Linked DNA regions of Homo sapiens. The protein of the gene in region 1 interacts with the protein of each later gene in a biochemical or structural test. Each region holds a gene or a part of one and is shown on either strand. Other genes may lie near its edges.

Region 1 (3,651 bases):
AGAATTAAGACTTGTAAATACTGGTTGGCTGATTGTACATCAAAGAACCAGCAACTATTTCATTGATAACTATCATTATCTGGCAGTGTGTGGGGATTTCAAAGATGTCTGCTTCAGAGGAGCTCACATTTATACAGAAATGAGTGAAAGAAAATAAGAAAGACTGGCTTGTTTTTACCTTCTCACCAGAGAAAGTTTCAAAGGTACAGAAAAGGAGACAATAAATATAATGATGTCCCAGAGAGTGGCTGTTTTGAATCGCTAGATTCTAATGAGATAAACTGGCATTCCCTATCTTTATCCTAAGGCTTGTCATAAGAAATCTCTTAATGAGAAGTCAGTATTTTCTGGAAGTATCCTTGATTTTATAAAGAATAAAATCAAGCAGATCCACTGGTTCCTCTCTCATTCTGTCCTTCCTTGTCTATCAGAGGCCACGATGAACCAGCCATCCGTCAAGTACAGTACTTTATAAAACGGCTGTGACTCATGGAACTTCTCAGTTCATCAACATGGCTGAGAACTATTGGATACCGATATATATTAATATCGGTATCAAAGTAGAAGCTTCTAAACCCTTAAAAAAAGTTCTATTAATAAGGATTCAACTATTAGATGAGAATTTGGATTTTTATTATATACATAACCAACCTCTCACAAGGAAGCTACAGGTTGTTCTGGGTCTATAATTCTCTCATCTTATTTTTAAACTTTGGTTTGGGCCACAAGGACTCATAAATCTGCAATTTTTTTTTTTTTTTTTAGACGGAGTTTCACTCTGTCGCCTAGGCTAGAGTGCAGTGGCGCAATCTCGGATCACTGCAACCTCCACCTCCCAGGTTCAAGCCATTCTCCTGCCTCAGTCTCCCGAGTAGCTGGGATTACAGGCACCCGCTACCATGTCTGGCTAATTTTTGTTATTTTTTTGTAGAGACAGGGTTTCACCATGTTGGCCAGGCTGGTCTTGAACTCCTGACCTCAAGTGATCTGCCTGCCACAGCCTCCCAAAGTGCTAGGATGAAAAGTGTACACCACCGCGCCCGTCCAAATCTGCAATTTTTAAATTCAATCTCTAGGTTTTATGGCTCAAACTGTTTGAAAAAGATTCCTTAAATATATGTAAAATTTATGTGCTGCACTAAATAATATACTAAATAAGGAGAAGGATTGTGTCCCCTTGTCGTACCCCTTTACGTACCTTCAGACCTCAGGGTACAACATGAAACATAATGGTCAAAGTCAGAGCTAAATAAAATCTTTATGCTCCTGCTACGATAGGTACTATCACAGGAAGGCAAAACAGGATACAAAAGTCCCTAATGAAAAATAGATTACATTCTACTTGTGGAGAAAACAGTAAGAGATAAAGCAAAAGAGAATGGAAATGGCCCAGAAGTAATATAATACTACAGTATAGCTCTAATGATTCTGCCTAAATCCAAATCTCTACTTACTGGAGTTGCAGGCTGCGGAGGAAGCAGCGGTGCTGTTGGGGTAGGAACAGACGCTGCTGTGCTCTGCTGTGAGCGAGGCTGCTGCTGGGGCTGGTCAGCAGAAGGTGCAGCAGGAAGTGAAGGCTGCACTTGTTGGGGAAGTTGTGTTGTTGGTGGTGTAGGTGTCTGCCTTGGAGGGGGATGTAGAGCCTGGGACTGTGGCCCAGGTGGCATGGCAGGAGGTGTAGGAACAGGGGCTGGAATTGTTGTTGCTGGTGGCTGCTGAGCCCCTATGCTTGGGGGAGTATGGTGAGGGGTGGGGGTACGACTAGGTACAGGCGAGGGTGAATTCTGATGAAGAGCTGGTTGAGGAAGCTGGGGACAGTGAATGTGGCTCCCCTGAGACCCTGGAGGCATTATAGGAGAGTTCACCGGGCAGGAAGAACTAGACATTTGTGCCTGTTAAAATAAAAAACATAACAAGACAGCAATTCAGAACAGAATTAAGGAAATACTTACATAGGCATGATATATAAATTTAGGACACAAACTGATTAAACAAAGAGTAGCAATGTGTCTATTTCAAAATGTGTAAAATACCCTATTACTGGGCATGTATCTTTGGACAGCACCATCAAGATAGTACTTAACTAAAGAGACTTCAAACCATTCAGCAGAATGGCCTCAGCCACCGCAGAAAAATGGCAGAATTGAGTGCAGAGTGCTCTAGGGCCTGCCTATGCTCTTTTCAGCCAGATTTCCTTCTACATTGTGTTTAATTCTAAGATTTATTTTAAAGTGTTCACTAGTAAAAACAATTAAAACTATCCATTTAAATTATTTCCTACTTTGTAACAATTAACACCATTGCTATGTCACAGAATAATCTCTTCATGTTCAGAATACCCTAAGTCCAAAATTGTTATTTTTTAAAAAATCATCTGTTTTCACCCACTATTTGCTGCCACTCTCTCCTATAAAAACCTACATCAAGAGAAGTTTCAAGAATCAAAAATAAGTGAAAAATCCACTTATGAGACATACTTGAGACACTGGAGCTTGACCGCTGGACGGAGCCAAAGGGATATTTGTTACATTCATTCCCTGTGATGGGAACTGAGTCTGAGGAAGGAACTGGCCCTGGTTGGAAGGCTGTTGCATACGAGGCCCATAGCCCATAGGCTGAAAAAAAAAAAAAACACAAATCACCAAACTGCTTCATTATAGTTATTCTACTATAACTAAAATCATCAAATGCTCCTAACGTCAGGCTTATTAAGTAGAGAAAAGCCAAAGACAGGAGTATAGGTGAAGAGGGCTGAAGAGGAGAAGGAAGAAAGTTGTAGAACAACTGACTCTTGTGCCAAGATAAAGAGAAATAGCCTCACAGTTTACCTAGGCCTACTCCAAGAAATAGTAAGAGGATGGAACACACATTCTCTTGGTACACAAATATGCCTAGCACAAGGATAGCAGGTAATTTTCTTTGCATGCTCTGTTAAGTGAGGAGAGTTAATCACAATTTCATGAGGTCATGTCAGTGATGTAATAACACAAATTCTAAGACCCATAATATGTAAAAACAAGAAAATCTTACAAGTTGTAGCAGAATCTGGTAGCATTCATGGTCCACAAATGCTCTAGCACTGTTACATGTCATTTCCAAAATTACCCTACACAAATTCAGGCCTTAAAGAAAGAAATCTCGAGTACCAAAGGCCAAAAACTTCATAAGCTAAGACCATCTGTCTTATAGGTTAAAATGAAGGACAGAACTCCCTGTTGAAAATGGCAGATTAGTGAGAAGTAGTAATGCTCAGGAACCCCCAAAAGGGTCAAGAATCAGAGGCACCAGCTAACTCTAAAGGGCAGCAGGAGGGTTAGGGTCAAGGTAGAGAGATGGACTGGTTAAGAGTTCGCATAAGGAGCAGGAGAAGCCTAGTCTCTCTTCTCCGAGTTCAAGAACCAGGCAAAAACGCACCATCAACCTTGCAAGACAGTTCTCTGCCTGGAGGAGGGAAGACAGACATCAGGGAAGAGAAGTGACCGTGAAAACGCATGCAGGCCACTAAACACTGACACTCCAGGGACAAGGGACTGGCTGTTTTCGTTTTTTGGTCAGCTTTCTAGTAGAGTTAAATACAGAAGAATTACAGAAGAACTAGGAGTTATGGTCTGTTTAAATGACTGTGAGAATTTATAAAGTAGGAACAAACAG
Region 2 (3,651 bases), on another chromosome or scaffold:
CCCCCTCCCATTCACTGAGCTCTGAAAGGACTCAAATGGACAAGTCTCTCGGTTGGAGGATTGTAAGTGAACTTGGCTGTAGATCATGAGCAGAAATCTTGGCTTCTCATCTGGGGAGCCAGCCAAGTTTGAGAAGTTGGCTCAACAAGGAAAGGCAGCAGTCCACTGCCTGGTAGAAAGCCTGGGCTGGGGACTGTTGTTCTCAAAGTAGTGGATGGAATTTCTGTAGTGGTTCCAGGCCCAATTTAACTAGCAGAAGAGTGGAATCTTACACCAATCCCTGCTGCCATGTCCATCCCTGAGCTACTAGTGGAGTCAATTTTAAATCTCTCAGAGACAATGGCAAGGATGTATTTTTCTCTTCCCCAAGCTTGATTTGAAAGAACAAGTTAAAAACATGCAGAACTAACAAGCCTAATTCCAGGCAACTGTGAATTAAATGTTATCACTAATGTTTTGAAAGAGCACATGAAAAACAGAAAAACCTTTACACAAGGCTGAGAATTCTCTGTGGGAAACATTTCCAAACCACAGATCCACCCAGACCAATAACACTGCCCGCGCCTCATCCCCACCCCCATTGGAGGACTAGTTTGCAGGCTTTATCACTGCCTTGTTAACTGTCTTTGCTTGCTGGCAACCCTTTTTGAGAGGGCCAAGATTTCAGAGTTGAAGAAGAAAAACTGGGTGAAGACTCCCAGTGTAAGGCATCTAATATCCTCCCCCAAATGCAAAACTGGTTTTAAAAAACAAGCCCAAACAATTGTCTTGAACAAATAAAACTCTACTCAGATGAGCCTGTACTGAGAATGATGTTCAGTAATGAAAACAAATGGTACGGAAAACCCCCTTGTGGAATTAATTAGGCCCTATTCTAGGAGACCACAGAGGTATTCTTGGACTGTACAGCAGGCTCCCAAACATCTCCCCTACACATCCTATGGTTACAGTGGCTGGATGCTGCCCACTCTTCTAGTACGCTGGATTTGTACGTCTGGATGTCTGCCAGAAAACCCTTCCTCCAGGGCATCCCTAACAGAAATACTAAGGGGCTATGCAGTGGTCCACAGATGCTCAACAGAAACTCCCGCACCAAATCACTTCCAGCTTTGACATCTCTGCCAAAGTTTTTATTCAGCCTCTCAGTTATATTTCTACCCAACTTTCCACACTGGTAGACAGAATAAAAATCTTCACCTACAATTTGTCCATCTTTGACACTACCAAGCACGTGTATCTTAAGTGTTGTTAGATGTTGAAGACAAACATTATTTTGTTAGCCAAGAAGTTGCTATGTTGGCAAGAAGTCATCTAGGCTAAGGAGGTCTGTTCAAAATTGAGGGAAATCTCTTAAAATTATTTCCTTCCAACTTACTGCAGAGAGACTGCATCTTTGTTCAAGGCATCACATCAGTCAGTAATCTTATTTCCTCCAAGTTCTAGGCAAATAGCACGGGGAAATAAATGCTTCATTATTCCAGGATGCACAAGGTTCTCCAGAACAATGCCATGTCTTACAGGCTACCTGACAGCTAACCCCACCTATAAGGGGAACCATCTCAATTCTAATACAGAAAATTCTCAGCATATAGGGAATTAGTTGCCCACTCAATATTTACTACCTTTACAAAATGTGAAGGTTGTATTTTAGAGGGAAGCTTGTGTTGCTTATGATTCTTATCAAGCTATTCTTATTAGAGACTAAGGACACGAGAATACACAGACCCAAAAATCTCATCCGAAAAGATCTATTTCTTACTTCTGATAGATAAGAACAAGATAGGATAAAGCTCAATTTCTAAGCAACTTAAAATATTCATTTTAATCAACCCAAAAATTATAACATAAAATAATAGGCAGGTAGGATGGGATAAACTCACCAAGCTCCCTAAGAGAAAGACATGGATTTCAATTTTCCAATACCTGTCCTGCTTGTAGCTGATTGCCTGGTATACATTTCCAACATTATCTAATGTATGTATTTGTTTTCAAACTTTTTTCTTTTGGTGCCTAAAATAACTGGCAAATGCTATAATCCAAACAGGGCCTCATACTATAGCCATTTCAGAGAAGGATGCCTTGGTCAGGAAATTTTAATTAAAAACCAAGCTGAATTCTTTGACCAACTATTTCACCGTTACTGGCATCTTGGAAAAATTCTTTTAGACATAAGAACAACTTTTACCCTAACACAGGCACATTTAGGAACTAACTCTGGCATTTGTTATCACTGTAAGCATCACTGTCAACACTCTAAGCAGAGAAAAAGTACATGCATTGTGCAGCACTTTTGCCATGCAACTGACTGCAGGTAAAACAGACAGTAGTTTCCTGAGTGAATTCCAATCTCGGAGGCTACCAAGCTCGTTCTCTTCTGAATATTCCTAAAGAAGCAAAGAGCTCTGAGAAGTTAAAAATATTTCATGCCAGAAAGGTCCAGAAGTGGAATTGCACAAATCTGTTTTCAAACCCCTCACAAGTATACTGCAACTGCAACTCAGTCAGGTGCCATCAAGGATGGTCACTGGAAAAAAAATTGCATTTCCTGACCAACACACTAACCCATACATTTCCTGTATACTTACACTCTTTCCTAAAGAAATTTCCCAAACAGAAATAAAGCAAAAGGAAGCCCTTGCAATATAATATACCTGTCCCACAAATTTATCTTTAAAATGCAACCTCTTCCCTCCAAAATATAATAAAAATAACATCAGTGGGATTTTGCGATGTACTGAATTTAGTAGTAAGAATACTCTTTGGGGTTACTTCCTTTAACAAAGCTTACTGGCCATTGGAGAAGCTGTTTTCCGTTTGTACTGAAGCAATAGAAAAAAATATTTGCCAAATCAGTTTCACTTTCTGTTAGAGTTAGCCTAACTTCCTAACTCTCTTCTCAGTATCTTACATTTCTCATGTAGTAAGGCCTATATATTGTAGTGACATTATAAAACATACATGAATGTTTTTATATTAGGATCCACAGAACCCTTTTCAAATAACTTTTTCAACATCTTCTGTAGTCCTGAATACCTAAGTATTTGGTTGTTCACAGTCCACATCTTTTTTTAAACCTTTTTTCTAAGGCAAAACTTAAGAATAGCTCCCTCTTAAATTTTAAAAAATATATTTATTATCCATATTAAATATTGAGAAGTAAGCAGATGCATTCACAGAGGGGAAAAAATGGAATCCTTTTTACCCTACACAGTCACAATAGTTGTTTGATATACTATAAAATTTGTTTATAACATATCTGCTTTTTCTCTCCATGCTGTTGTAATTACATTGTGCAGAGTAATATTTAGAAATATCAACAAATAGATGTGTTAAATTAAAAACAAAGTGTCAAACCAACTTCCTTTGCCTACCCCCAAAATCAAAAGGAAAAATCCTAGGCACCTTAACAGCAAACTAAAAACATCTAGACAAAACAATGAGATTAGCATTCCAGGAAAGCAGAAACATTATAATAATTTAATAACAAATTTATATCAACGATCATATGGATGAAAATTTTGAAAAGCAGAAAGCTTTCAAGAACTGCGAGCCAAAATTTCACCAAAAAAACAAACAAACAAACAAACAAACAAAAAAAACACAACTTTCTCTTACTGGGAAGTCAGTATAATTTCAATTCAAAGGATAATT
Region 3 (3,751 bases), on another chromosome or scaffold:
CTCCAGCCCCACGTGGAGGGGAGCCTGAGGCCTGGAAGGAGAAGGACCACTTGCCCAAACTGTTCATAGGCAAGGCAGGGGGCCTGGGTTCTGGCTAGTCTTTGTGTTTCCTACTCTGTGACCTTTGCGCCTCTCCCAGCCTGTGTCTTGGTCTACAACACGGGGACAGCCATCACCCACCAGGTCCCTGGGCAGAAGTGAGGAGGTGTCAGCTGCCCCCTGCAGTGCTTGGTCTTCATGCATTGAGCACCTGAGTTGTATATAGCTGCACAGATGGGTAAACTGAGACCCTGAGCGGGAATAACAACCATATTGGGTCAGAGGGCACCCAACACCAGACACGCACAAGTGATCATAGCAGGAACCAGTTTATTGGTTGAGGTGGTGGGGAACAGGGGGGTTGGAGGCACACCATGAGGAGCGAGGGCTCAGCTCTCCCCAGGGCCCTGGAAATCCATGCCCTCCACCAAGTCCTGCAGGTAGGCCTTGTACTGGTCGGAGGTGAGGGAGAGTGGGTGGCTGTTGGAAATGTGCAGGTCCACAGTATTCTCCAGGGAGGAGGCACCCCCTACCCGGGCCATTTCTACCAAGGCCCTGAGGCACGTGGGCACAACCTGCAGGGGAAGTGGGGACAGGAGTCAGGGAAAACACCCAGCCACTGTCCACCAAGGTAGGAGTCAGGGCTTGGAGGACTACAACTCCCTGCAGCCCCTGCTGTAACCTAGGATGAACCATAGGCCTAGGGCTGCTGGGAGTTGTAGTTTTACACACACACACACACACACACACACACACACACACACACACACCCCCTGCTGTAACTGAACCATAGGCCTAGGGCTGCTGGGAGTTGTAGTTTTACACACACACACAAACACACACACACACACACGTCAGGGCTGAGCAGTCTGTGATCTTGACTCCTGGGAGCCACAGCCATGGCCTCACAATGGCAGCTAAAACTTGAGTCCACCAGCTTCTACATGGTTTAGAGCAGGGGTCCCCAACCCCCCTACGGCTTGTTAGGGACCAGGTTGCACAGCAGGATGTGAGCAGCGGGTGGGGGAATATTACTGCCTGAGCTCTGCCTTCTGTGAGATCAGCGGCAGCATTAGATTCTCAGAGGAGCACAAACTCTATCGAACTGCGCACGTGAGGGATCGGCTGCTCCTTAAGAGAATCTAATGCCTGATGATCTGCAGTGGAGCAGTTTCATCCCGAAACCACACCTCCCTGTCCGTGGAAATATTATCTTCCATGAGACTGGTCCCTGGTGCCAAATAGTTTGGGGGCCACTGGTTTAGAGAGTTCAAAACAGGTTCTGCAGGTGAGGCCATGGGAAGGAGCTCCCGGGGATGAAAAACTGGTTATTGCAGAGATCTTGGAAGTTGCAGTTTTTTAGAGGGCCCTCTGGGAGTTGGAGTTCCTGGGAGCAACCTCTTCCCTCTGTAAGGCCACCCCTTTCAGCCCCAGGGACTCAGGTCTGCAGGCACCTTGACCATCACGAGCCTCTTGGTCCACGGCTGGTCCTGGGGCCATGACTCCCCCACACAGAACCAGAGGGCATAGCGTGGTGAGCGTCCGCTTCCTTCCGTGAAGGTAATCAGATCTGGGGGCCCAGGAGCCTAGTCAGGGATGAGAAGAGGACCCTCTACCCACCCTTCCCCGTAAACTTGAATGATAACCCCCACCACCTCCCCTGACCTAAGGCCCTCTGCTGCCTCGACCAGGGGACTGCTTGTTTGGGGAAAGTCCCCTCCTTCCCTCCCTCCCTCCCTCCCATCAGGGTGGGGTTGTTGGAAGGCCACACCCCCAAGCCCCCAAGCCTCAGCATTCATAACAGGCCCAGAGTAGGGGGCCCATGCTCCCAAGGATGCTCAGTGAATCTGGAGAAGCTGGTTGGCATTCAGTCCTGTCTGAGGCTGCATTGTCCAATTGCAGCCATTAGTCATGTAAGGTTATTTCAGTTTAAATTGTAACCAATTAAAACGAATCACGTCCTGGTTGCACTCGCCTCACCTGAGTGCTTGGCCCCTGTGGCTAGTGGCTGCTGCACCGGACAGTGCAGGTGACTGTCATTTCCATCATGGCAGAAAGTGCCACTGCACAGCGAAACCCTAAGGGATGTAGCTTTCCTGCTATTGGTCTGTTCACCATCATTAGTTACGATGATGATGACAGTGGCAGCTAATTCCCTGAGCAGGCTCTGTGTACTGGGCCTGTGTCTCACCCCAGCGCTGGCAGGCAGGTAGAGAGAGGAGACCATCCTTGGATTCCACGGGCTCAGGGCAAAGTCCTTTGCCTCGGTTATACAGCGGGCCAAGGGCAGCCAGCGTCTGAATTCAGTCCTAATCATGAGTTCTTTTTTTTTTGTTGTTCGAGATGGAGTCTTACTCTGTCACCAGGCTAGAGTGCAGTGGTGCGATCTCAGCTCACTGCAATCTCCGCCTCCTGGGTTCAAGCAATTCTCCTGCCTCAGCCTCCCGAGTAGCTGGGATTACAGGCACGTGCCACCACGCCCGACTATTTTTTTGTATCTTTAGTAGAGATGGGGTTTCACTATGTTGACCAGGCTGGTCTCGAACTCCTGAACTTGTCATCTGCCCACCTCAGCCTCCCAAAGTGCTGGGACTACAGGCGTGAGCCACCGTGCCCGGCCAATCCTGAGTTGTTAACCACTGTGCAGGCTGCTTTGTACTGGCCAGGTCGAAGCCCCTGTCTCACTCACCTACAATGAAGGGCCCCAGGTCAAACACGCCTCCTTCCTTGTCCTTGGGGACCTCGCCATCAGGCCCATGCCCGCTGTTGGGGAGCAGCTCCTCGCTCACTGCCCAGTATGTGTGGCAGTGCCCCAGCCGCTGGGCCCAGAGCCACTGCCCGGCCCGCCAGAGAGCCAGTCCCCCACCCAGGCAGCTCAGCACATGCCTCACGTAGCTCATCACTCCCCTGTCTGTCAGGGACATGCCAGGGTCTGGCAGTGTGACTGGCCATCCAGGCAGCGTCCTGTCTCCCACTTCGGACCCCACCAGCCGCAGGCCCTCCGGGCAGGAGATGGTCTGCTGGAAGACTTGGCGGCCCCGGTAGAAGGCTGTCACCTCGAACTCCCACTCTGAGCAGCGGCAGCAGCGGCATGAAGGGGAGAGGGGTTGAGAATCAGGGGCTGCCGCCCAGACCTCAGCCCTCCCAGCCTGCAGCTGACACTCACCTTCCCCCGGCACCAACAGCCGCTTCAGTGGGTTCTCAGAGGGCCCCAGGTTTGGGAAGGGAGTGGGATTGTCCAAGCTGGGGCTCCGCAGGGGCTGAGGGCAGGGCTCAGGGGCTACAGCCAGGCTTGGGGGTCCCGGATCTGGGAGTGGGGCCAACACCATGTTACCCAGTAACTCATCCAGAATGTCTTCCTGGAGGGAAACAAAAAAAGAGAATCAGGCATTTCCATATCCTTTTCTGGAGACTTCATATGGACCAGGTCTGTTCTCAGCAACGCAGGGAGGTCAGGCTTGAGCTCTGCCTTCAAGGGGCTTCCAGCCTGGGGACAGAGCCAGCCATGGCATCAACAGCCAAACAAACACTAATGAACGCCAGGTGCTACCATTCCAACCCAAGGATCTGGCTCTATGCAGGTAAGACCTGGGCAAAGCAGGCTGGGTAGAATTTCAGAGGGGATGCTCCCCCAGCTTGGGCCTCAGCAGGATCAAGGTGAGGGAGTTTTTCAGTTCCCAAGAGGCTGACAGCCCCCTGCGAATCGAAATCC

Evidence for each region.
Region 2: of the proteins of EP300 (region 1) and MAX, one has a biochemical effect on the other in vitro, tested with the Homo sapiens proteins (3 studies listed by BioGRID).
Region 3: the proteins of EP300 (region 1) and IRF3 form a complex in vitro, tested with the Homo sapiens proteins (3 studies listed by BioGRID, with this or other methods).

The regions. Positions count from the first base shown.
Region 1 is NC_000022.11:41,148,002-41,151,652, reverse strand, and holds part of EP300 (histone acetyltransferase p300), read right to left. Parts: intron 2,616-3,651; coding exon 2,478-2,615; intron 1,893-2,477; coding exon 1,455-1,892; intron 1-1,454. UniProt on the Homo sapiens protein: Functions as a histone acetyltransferase and regulates transcription via chromatin remodeling. Acetylates all four core histones in nucleosomes. Histone acetylation gives an epigenetic tag for transcriptional activation.
Region 2 is NC_000014.9:65,095,969-65,099,619, forward strand, and holds part of MAX (protein max), read right to left. Parts: intron 1-3,651. UniProt on the Homo sapiens protein: Transcription regulator. Forms a sequence-specific DNA-binding protein complex with MYC or MAD which recognizes the core sequence 5'-CAC[GA]TG-3'. The MYC:MAX complex is a transcriptional activator, whereas the MAD:MAX complex is a repressor.
Region 3 is NC_000019.10:49,659,220-49,662,970, forward strand, and holds the end of IRF3 (interferon regulatory factor 3), read right to left. Parts: intron 3,399-3,751; coding exon 3,206-3,398; intron 3,110-3,205; coding exon 2,729-3,109; exon of another isoform or gene 2,231-2,728; intron 1,626-2,230; coding exon of another isoform or gene 1,610-1,625; coding exon 1,494-1,609; intron 615-1,493; coding exon 429-614; coding exon of another isoform or gene 370-428; 3' UTR 353-369; downstream 1-352.